2 separate regions of the Homo sapiens genome follow, and region 1 is linked to region 2. The links come from fine-mapping of genetic effects on gene expression. A gene starts in region 2. The other region holds a variant in brackets. All regions are shown on one strand. Distances are from middle to middle. Region 1 overlaps MCOLN2 (mucolipin TRP cation channel 2). Region 2 holds the start of MCOLN2 (mucolipin TRP cation channel 2).

Region 1 (5,374 bases), 65 kb before region 2:
CTTGTTCCCTCAAATTCTTTCACTCTTCATGAGGGGCAGACCCTCCGTCTCACCATGCATCTTCTCAACAACCCTCAGCACACTTTAGGGCAAATGGTCTGCTGCTGTTGCTCCTTGCGTCTCACCACTCAGACCCAATCTTACCCAAACGTCTTGGGGTCCACGCCTTAAATCTTTCACTTGTTCCATAGGGCTGCATGACAAAACATTTAACAACCTCCCAGGACTTTGTGTGGCACAAACCAAGGTCCAAACACCAAAGACCTATCGTTTACTTTTTAGAATTCATGACTACATTTTTCAATGAAGTTTATCCCCCTTATAGTAAAAAAGAGATTTTGAGAGACTTTCCTTATACAAGGTACCTCTTAGGAGGCAGCTGCCTATTAAGAAAATTAATTTCCTTTATCCCAGCTTTCACAGCAACAATTTAATGCTCTGAGAAAAAAAGGTGTGATTCTGAAAACAACTCTTCTCAGATCTCATTTTCTATTTACCAGACATTCTCTGGATCTGCTCAGTCATATCATTGTAAGTCCCAAGATGCTGTATGAATTGATTAACAGAAAAATGCATCCTGTGGTTTTAAATAGCAATTATGTTCTCATAGCTTCCTTCAGGAATTTGGGTTACAGAGTCCTTCCAAAAAGAAAAAACATATGTAGGGTATACTTTTAGTTACAAACTGGCACCCCTGACTTCAGATGAAAGCAAACATAGGCACATTAAAAAAAAAATTGTCTTCACCTGACCCCATTCTAGTCCACAAATCACTATGTAATATGCTTTGTCCACTGAGGTCTAGACCATTTCTCTACATGTCCTGACGAACAACAGGCAAAGCACAGCTAGGCAAGGAAGAGCTACTGGTGTGCACGGATAAGCAAGCACTTGGACAGCCTCTTCGCAAGGAAGTTTCCTGCTCTCATCAAGAAAGATTGCTTGTACCACATACTGTGAAAAGGGAAAACACCTCTGACACTCCCAGAGTTTCACCTCTAAAAATAAGAGCTTTGACCTCTTACTTGGGCCACTTAAGAGTTCAGCCTCTTGACTTTAAGGACATAATTTATGCCTTCTCTTAAGAGTCTTATAGTATTTCTAAGAGATTCCAATCACATCGTGTAGCTTTCTACATAACCCTGTTTTAGAAGAAATAATTCATTTCTAAAGCCAATTTCAGTGGGAGGAAAGAAAAGAAAGGTGAATTATTTCCCATGATAAGCTGGTCTCTGAATGTAATGGTAATCTTGGAGGGGCTCTTTCTTAAGACAACAGAACAGCCCATCTCAGGAGCATGGAGAATAAACATGATACTGACCTCCTCCGACAGCAGATGCAGGACAGGAAGGCTGAGGACTCTTTCTGATACTCTTCTTTGCTACTGCATTCCTTCAGGAATTCCTGCAAATCCGTTTCAGGAAACCCATTCTGTTGGAATTTCTTTAGAAAGTACACAATGTTGTTACCTTATTTATAAGGCATGAGAAATTGCTCTTTTGTCAACAAACCAAGCCCACCTTTGCTAAAATAAAACTCTCCCACATTGCTAGCTCAGATCCAAGAACTGATATTTACAATGATGAATCAATCTGTCAGTCCCAGAACACCAAGGCAGGGCCACTGTGGGAACAGAGAACAATCCAAAGAAAAACTTCAGAAAGAAAGCAGAGAAGAGCCAGGGAGAGGTTTTTTTTAAAAAAAAAAAAGGTAATGAAGGAAATAATCAAAAGTCAAATGTCTAGTCTGGGTATGATGGCTCATGCCTGTAATCCCAGCACTTTGGGAGGCCAAGAAGGGAGGATCGCTTGAGCCCAGGAGTTTGAGACTGGCCTGGGCAAGATGGTGAGACCCCATCTCTACAAAAAATACAAAAATTTTCTGGCCATGGTGGTGTGCACCTGTAGTCCCAGCTACTCTGGAGGCTGAGGCAGGAGGATCGACTGAGCCCTGGAGTTGGAGGCTATAATGAGGTAGGATTATACCACTGTCCTCCAGCCTGGGAAACAGAGCAAGACCCTCTCTCTTTTTTTAAAAAAAAAAAAAGTCTAAACTTTTAATGCTAACAGCAAGACTAGATGAGACCTCCCACTCCACACACACATTGGCAATGTAGACTCTGCTTGGAAAGTAATCATTATTTCCTCTACTTTTATGGAAGTTGGTCGCTTAGTGGAACAGAAGAGAGATTTTTTTCCAAGCAGACACAAAGACTCCCTCCCCTCATGCTTAATGAGATAACCTACTTCAACACTGAGGCTTGGCCCCCACCACGCAGAGACATTGCCACATCAAAGACATGAATCTCTGTGGCAGGAGTGTGCACCTCTTCCTTCTCCATGCAAACCCTGATGCGAGAGGCAACTACCATTCCCACCTGAACACTTACTTATCTTCCCACACACTCAAAAGGTAGCGGACTGGGTTTCTTCTGCATTATTCTGAGAAAGTGGTTAAGCAGAAAACAGCCCTGACAAAGGCACTGGCATGGCACCCCTGGTTTTTCAGTCACTGACCCTGAAGCAGGGTTTTCTAAGCATGACCATCTGCTGTGAATAAGGTACCAGCACCCAAGGAAGTGAAATTCCTTCAAGCCACAAATCAGTTAAATGGCCTAGTCTGAAAGGATACAGAACCCATCAGGTAGCTTAAGAAAGCAGGAAGCTAAACAGTCACAAAAGCCTTAGTTTTCATAATTTAAAGGAAGCCTGCACCATGCCAGTAGCTGTATTATCCAGTGTGAGTTGTAGCAATATCTGAGAGTTGTCAGGGTGCCGGTCACCTCTCATCCCTGAAACTTATGACTCAATCCTAAGTTCCAGGCAGCCACACTGGCAGGTATATCTGTCAGGGCTAAGACCAGCAGCCTGACTACCTGACTTACCCCATTCAACCCATGCTTACCCCATTTCCCTTTTCTTTCCCACCACCCCTCCAAACCAATCCACCCTGCTGTGGGTAACAGGGACAATGCCCTAAAATTCATCTCCAGCGTCTAAAAAGTTTGTCCACAAAACCTCAAAATCTGAACTGTAATATTTTAAGTTTTTAAAATGTGGTATTTTCCTATAATCTATATAGAATTTGCAGTGATTTTTTGGCAGCAAATTTTGATAATTACTTACCTTAATGGTGTCATAAGAATCTGTAATAAGTGCAATAAAAAGACTGAGAATCATATATATAAAAAGGCTGATGAAGGAATATAAATACAGACGACTGAACAGCCACACCAAGATGCTCTTCTGCTGGATTTGGGCAAAGGTTGCAAACATGTCATCACCGTTGACCAGAGAAAACAGACACTCAGCAACTGTGTTCAGATTTTCAAACTGTAGGGGGAAATAAAAACTAGTTTCTGAAATA[G/C]AGTATTCTAAAAAGCAGAGGATATCTAGTTAGCTTGTTTTGTTAACATTGTTTTTGTCATTGTAGTAGTGGTAACTTACTTATTTTAAGATGCTAGAACACCATAAGAAGTAGGAAAACATTATTCAAAAACCCCCTCTGGGCCAGGCACAGTGGCTCATCCCTACAATCCCAGCACTTTGGGAGGCCAAGGTTGGAGGATCACTTGAGCCCAGGAGTTTGAGACCAGCCTGGGAAAGATTACAAGACCCCATCTCTACAAAAAGTACAAAAATTATCTGGGCATGGTGATATGCCTGTAGTCCCAGCTATTCAGGAGGCTGGGGTGGGAGAATCTCTTGCATCCAGGAGGTTCAGGGTACAGTGAGCCAAGCTTCTGCCACTGCACTGCAGCCTGGGGGACACAGCGAGACCCTGTCTCTTTAAAACACACACACACACACACACACACCCCTCCATACTCTCAAAGTTAATCTCTTAACAATTCCCACAGTTTTTCCCTATGTACTTTTTATATATCTAAAACCAGGATCTAACAAGTTTAGATCCTGGTTTTTCTCCTAATTAACATAAGCATCTTCTTATGTTTTCTACACTTAGAGAGCATTTGTAGGTTTTGTTTGTTTGTTTGAGACAGAGTCTTACTCTGCCACCCAGGCTGGAGTGCAGTGCAATCCCAGCTCACTGCAACCTCTGCCTCCAGTGTTCAAGCGATTCTCATGTGTCGGCCTCCCAAATAGATGGGATTACAGGTGCCTGCCACCAAGCCCGGCTAATTTTTGTATTTTTTTGTAGAGATGGGGTTTCACCATGTTGGCCAGGCTGGTCTCGAACTCCTGGCCTCAGGTGATCCGCCCACCTCAGCCTCCCAAAGTGCTTGGATTACAGGCATGAGCCACTGTGCTCAGCTGGCATTTGTTATATAACAGACCATTCCTTGAAAATGCCAACAAAACAAAACTTTTCACCACCCTAACCAGAAAAATGAACTTTTTTTTCTAAATTGCCCTATTTCTGTCAGTGATTCCAATCTCCTACCAAAGAAACATTTACTCTGAAATAATTAAGTCCTTAAAACTCTGTGTTGAATTGATTACTCTTCCCCGCTTTCAGTCTTCTAAGGCCTGTCTGTTCCTATCACATGTTTCTCCAATCCACCCTTACTACTCTACTGTGATGTCAACACAAATTTCTGAATTATTAAAGAAACTTCCAAGGAAGTCTCTTTTACTCCAATCTCTTTACCCTCCCCAGTCAAAGCTGCAGTAAAACCTGTACTTTAAGAAGAAGGCTTTCAGGTCATTTCTCCCTTGTGAGATTATACAAAGTTTGGATGCAAAATAAAAATCTAAACCAAGAAGGTTGTGATAAGTTCCTCCTTTATGCAGCCTCATCACATCTCCTCCTTGACAGTATTAATATGCTGTGCTTATCTTCTCCTCCAACACCAGGCCCATCCCTACATTTTTCCCTCATGGAATTTATTCTCCTCACCTGCTCTATTCTTCTTTCTCTTCTCTGTGTCCAATTAAGCCAATGTTCAAGGGTCATTTCAGAGTGTACTTCAAGACCAAGTGCCCTGGTAGTTCTAGTCCTTTCTCTGCACTCCGTATCGGTAAGAATCACAGAATGAACTATGGTCTTCTAATTGTTTTTATACACACTTCCCTGTACTCCAACTAGATACAAACACCGTGCCTTACACTACCAGCCACGTGGCTGGACCAGGCAAGGTAAAGTTGGTGGCCAAGGGAGAAGGTCTACAAACGCACCCCAAACAAGGATCCCACCCATGGCTTTGCTGCATCAGCAAAAACTCTGATGAACTAAAGTCCTCCTCCAAAAAGACCTAGAGGAAATATCCAAATGAACAGATCACTTAACAATATGTAGATTATTTAACAGTAAAACAGGCGATTGCCAGAGTAAATATTTTCCATACGCTACACAAGCCTTAAAACATTGAAGTTAAAGCTGAAAACATTGACATTAAAGTTGGTTTCTATGG
Region 2 (5,374 bases):
CGGAGTCTCGCTCTGTCGCCCAGGCCGGACTGCGGACTGCAGTGGCGCAATCTCGGCTCACTGCAAGCTCCGCCTCCCGGGTTCACGCCATTCTCCTGCCTCAGCCTCCCGAGTAGCTGGGACTACAGGCGCCCGCCACCACGCCCGGCTAATTTTTTGTATTTTTAGTAGAGACGGGGTTTCACCTTGTTAGCCAGGATGGTCTCGATCTCCTGACCTCATGATCCACCCGCCTCGGCCTCCCAAAGTGCTGGGATTACAGGTGTGAGCCACCGCGCCCGGCCAAATAATAAGTCTTGAAAGTTGAAATTACTCCTTGATCCATGGGCTGCAGAATGGATGTTGTGTTAACATATATGAAAACAACATTCATCTCCTTGTACATCTCCATCAGAACTTTTCAATGATCAGAGGTATTATCAATGAGCAGTAATATTTTGAAAGAAATCTTTTTTTCTGAGCAGTAGGTCTCAACCATGAGCTTAAAATATTCAGTAAATCATGCTGTAAACAAGTGTACTGTCATCTAGGCTTTGTTGTTCCATTTACAAAGCAGAGGCAGAGTAGATTAACATAATTCTTAAGTGCCCTAGGATTTTTGGAATGGTAAATGAGCACTGGCTTCAACTTAAAAGTCACCAGCTGTACTAGTTCCTAACTAGAGAGTCATCCTGTCCTTTGCACCTTTGAAATCAGATGCTGGCTTGTCCTCTCTACTAGGAAAGTCCTAGATGGCATCTCCTGCCAATAGAAGGCTGTTTTGTCTACATTGAAAATCTGTTGTTTAGAGTAGCCTCCTTCATCAATGATCTTAGCTACATCTTCCAACTAACTTGCTGCAGCTTCTATATCAGCACTTTCTGCTTCGCCTTGCACTTACATGTTATAGAGATGGCTTCCTTTCTTAAAGCTCATGAACCAACCTCTGCTAGCTTGAAACTTTTCTTCTGCAGCTTCATTACCTCTCTCAGCCTTCACAGAATTGAAGAGAGTTTGGGCCTGCTCTAGATTATGCTTTAGCTTTAGTGAATGTTGGTGCTGGTTTGATCTTCTATCCAGACCACAAAAACTTTCTCCATAACAGCAATAAGGCTGTTTTGCTTCCTTATCATTTGTATTTTCACTGGAGTAGCACTTATAATTTCCTTCAAGAACATCTCATATGCATTCAAAACTTGGCTAAATGGCACAAAATGCCTAGCTTTTGGTCTGTCTCAGCTTTCAACATACCTTCCTCACTAAGCTTAATCACTCCTACCTTTAAAGTAAGAGACCTGTGATTGTCCCTTGCACTCAAACACTTAGAGACCACTGTAGGGTTATTAGTTGGGCTAATTTCAATATTGTGGTGTCTCAGGGAATAGAGAGGGTTGGGGAGAGGAAAAGAGATAGAAGAATGGCTGGTCGGTGGAGTAGTCAGAACACATACAACATTTATTAATTGAGTTCCCTGTCTTATATGGGCACAGTTCATGGCACCCCAAAACAATTACAGTAGTCACATCAAAGATCAGTGGTCACAGATCACCATAACAGATATAATAATAATGATGAAAAAGTTTGAAATATTGAGAGAATTGCCACAATGTGACATAGAGACACAAAGTGAGCACATGCTGTTGGAAAAATGGCACCAATAGACTTGCTGGACACAGGGTTGCCACAAACCTTCAATTTGTAAAATAAAATAAAATTGAATTAAATGCAGTATCTACAAAGTGCAATAAAGCAAAGAACAATAAAACAAGGTATGCCTGCACTTTTTTCTATGAACCCCTTAACATGTGACACAAGAGCTCACTAAAGAGTGATTTAATTCTTCAGAACTGACACACGGAACTTAGACCCTAGGCCTTAAAGAAAACAGCCCAGCTTCAGGAAAGTCCACTTTTACTTTTACAGCCAGAAGAGTTTTCTTTGGCCACTACTTTTACTTTGAAAGCTATAGTCACAAGAAGCCATCTCTTTTTCCGCCGGTTTTAAAATTGTCTTGTTCTAGGTTTCACTTCACTGACAGAGACATAGCCAAAGAGATCAGCTTGTGAATATGATCATTCTTGACTTTCAGTTCTGTATTTCGTGCCCCTTTGCTCAAACTATGTCTCTCAGTTCTTCTCACTTGCTTCATTAAAATATTTTATATCTATTACTCTATTTTTTTAAAAAAAAACACTTTTGATATGTTCCTCCTTCACAGAAAAGAATGTGGCTACCTCAAACACTTTATTAGGATTCACTCATTTTTTATTACAGGAGGTTAAATAAAATTGGTATTATGATGGCCTCTGTATGGAAAATGTGTCGTTTTTAGAGTTCCGGCCACAGAAACTGACCTATGAACGGTTTTCTAAAGGAGAAGGGTGTGCCTGTGGAAAGTTCACGGCAACGGGAGTTTGACTCCTCTTAAGGTATGAAGAGGAAGACAGGCTAAAGTCTCAAGAAACTTCTGACTCAATAGGGGAAAGCTATCAAATTTCCCAAAAGTTGTGCGATTTTGGTTAGCACATCACAAAGGTGATGAGCAGCTCCTGAGAGTGAAACCCACATCCCATTTCTGGGGAGAACTACGTAGTTGGTTCCCTCTACATAAAATATCAGAGTCTACATCCTGACACCCATAAGAAACCTCTCCCACCTTTCTCTTACTAACCTTTTCTTCCATTCTCAGTTTACAATGACACACAATTTTGTTTCCCACAAGTACCGTTCAACCAGAGACACACACACTTACACATACGTATATATTTCATATATATATATATATATATATATATATATATATATATGTTTGGAGAGCAGGAAACGGGGGAGCCAAGGTCTGTTTGTACTCACAACTTTGGCTCAACTGTGCTGGGGTGGCTGGAGGTTTGACCACGGAGGAGGGGCCCGCTGGCAGCGCCAACCGGCTGAACTGTGCGCCTTTTCATAAAGGCCGAGGAACTGGGGTTAGCCACACTACAACCCTCCCACCTGAGGGAAAGGCCTGTTTGTTCTGGAAGGCACAGCCTAGCCTTATTTAACTAACTGCAAGCAGTTAATATAAGCATTCCCAAGGCAGCAAGCAAGCTCTAGTCTACGAAAGTAAAGCCATCGACTTTAGGAAGATTTCTCCAGTCCAGCATCCTGAAAGATGAAGCCCAGACTCCTCACCTGACGGTTAACCTGAAAACACCTGATCCTCTCTCCGGAATCCTTGCCTGGGGAAAACGATAAGGCTGCCGGGCCATGCCTCCTCCTTCAAAACTTTCCAGGGCTCTCGGGATTCGGAACAGGAAACACCGTTCACGGCCGACTCATTTCGCCCTCGCCGTAACGCGTCCGCCGAAGTTGGAGCCCTGCAAAGCGGGGTTCCCTTCTCTTACCCTTTCTGCCGGCCGCGTGGTGCGCGCAGACCCCGGCCCGAGAGCAGGCGCCGCAGTCGTGGAGTGCGGCGGGCAGTTCTCGGGCGGCTGAAAGGCGGCTCTGTGTGCACCCTGCAGGATGCGGCGCGTGGCCAGGCGCTCCCGCCCCGCCCCCAAGGGGCTGCCCCGCCCCGCCCCGCCCCGCCGCCTCCTACCGGGGACCGGAGCTTCCCCAGTTGGGGTCCTAGGGGACTTATTCCACGCTTCAGCGGACCAGCCTCCCCGCGCTCCCGGAGAAGGGGGTCGGCGACGCGGAGGCGGGGTGGGGGCCGTAGGGGATGGAACCGAGGCGCGCGCGAGAAGAGCCGAGGAAGTAAGCAGTCCCAAAAGGGGGCGGCGGTGGGGCCCCCAGGGAGGCGTGGGGCACGCCAAGGGCGCCGTGGGGCACTGACCTGTGGTGCGGCCCCCAGGACAGGCCCGAGGCGCGGTTGCACACCGGCAGGTCCAGCACCTCCATGCCTCGAGGCATGGCGCGGCCAGGGAGCGGCAGGAGGACACCTAGCGTGGGACGGCTACACCTGTCTGGGCGCAGGCCCGCCGCCCTTGCACTCTCCACCCAAGTGCCCAACGCTGCGGTACGGCCCGCTTTGGCTCGGGGTGTCTGCCGGAGAAGCGCCTTACAGAGGGACCCGGGCGGTGGGCCCTGCGGCAAAGTGGCCCACGCACCCTCCACACCGCTCCCGGGCGGCCGCACCTGGCACTCCCGGCCCTCTGGGGTTCCTGCCTTTTTCGGGGGGGTGGTGGTGAGACCGGGTCTCACTCTGTCGCCTGACCTGCGATCACTGCTGACTGCAGTCTTGAACTCCTGGACCCAAGCGATTCTCCTGCCTCCGCCTCCCAAAGTGCTAGGATTACAGGTGTAAGCCGCTGCGCCTGGCCCCTTCTTTTCTTCACTCTCTCATGCATTCATTTCTTGTTTCCACATGCATTAATTTGTCCGTTGCTTTGGTCATTCCTGTTTTGATGCTTAGGGAAACACTCACTGAGAGCCAAGCCGACCGTTGGGTACTGTGGTCTCTGGGATGACAAAGACATGGTCCTTTCCCTTGAGGACTTCACATTAAACTGACAAGTTCATTCATTCTGGCTTTTCTCTAAAGTGCACGATCATGAAAGTCTGTGACAAGGGCCATATTTCTGAGATGTTAGAAAGTGCGACCGGCGCGCAAGGAATAGGAAAAGCGAGTTGCCCTGCGCCCGCGTCGGGATGAAAGGCAGGGAGCCGGGAGGGAGCGTCAGCGTGGCCCGGCGGGCGCGGAGGGAGGGCGCACGGCCCCAGGGCTGGACTCGTAACCCCAGCGCCCTGCTGCAGCCGCCGTTGCTTTTCCCTCTTGGTGCACGAAAGGAAGACGCCTGTGGGAAATCGAACAGACAATCGGTCGCCGTTCGTGAATCTTAGAGATGAGAGTCGTCAGTACATGACCAAAAGCCGTGTTCGGCTCCTAGTGATGTTAGCTTGGTAGTTTGGACGTGGCCGACAGCCTCCTAGAGCTCGTACCCCTCCTTTTCACGAGGTAGCAGCAGCAAAGTCCGCAGTGCCAGGCTCTGTGAGTCTGCAAGCGTTTAAAAGATCTCCGGGTTTAGCTCAGGCAAAGAATATTCTGCCAGGTAATTATTTTAATATGCGTGTCCAGGCAGAAGCAGTTGGACAGACGATGTATATAAAAGCACACATAATTGACCCTCTTTTAAGGCACTTCCAAGGGGTTATTAGGCAGAAATGCCTTGGTTTTGAGCCCCTTTCATCGGAGGTGCGCAATCATCCAGCTTTGTGAATAGTAACTGCACTCCAGCCTGGGCAACATAGTAAGACCCCAACCTTTTGGCACCAGGGACTGGTTCCATGGAAGATGATATTTTCCACGGACAGGTGGGGGGATGAGGGGAGGATGTTTTCGGGATGAAACTGTTGCACCTTAGATCAGTAGGCATTAGAGTCTTATAAGGAGCACACAACCTGCAACTTAGATCCA

The links. PIP is the estimated chance that this variant, and not a neighbour inherited with it, causes the effect.
Region 1: its variant is fine-mapped to the expression of MCOLN2 in whole blood (TOPMed, PIP above 0.99).

What each region holds. Positions count from the first base shown.
Region 1 is chr1:84,928,237-84,933,610 of GRCh38, forward strand. MCOLN2 (mucolipin TRP cation channel 2) reads right to left here. Exons shown (of 14, transcript NM_153259.4): 12 at 3,126-3,332; 13 at 1,322-1,443. Among named protein-coding and RNA genes, the nearest start is that of LPAR3, 38 kb to the left of the region's middle. The variant G/C (reference allele first, on the strand shown) is at 3,367.
Region 2 is chr1:84,993,646-84,999,019 of GRCh38, forward strand. It overlaps MCOLN2 (mucolipin TRP cation channel 2), which reads right to left and starts at 3,468. Exons shown (of 14, transcript NM_153259.4): 1 at 3,151-3,468. The coding sequence starts at 3,227. RefSeq lists enhancers at 1,951-2,010, 4,331-5,202 and silencers at 2,811-2,860, 3,471-3,760.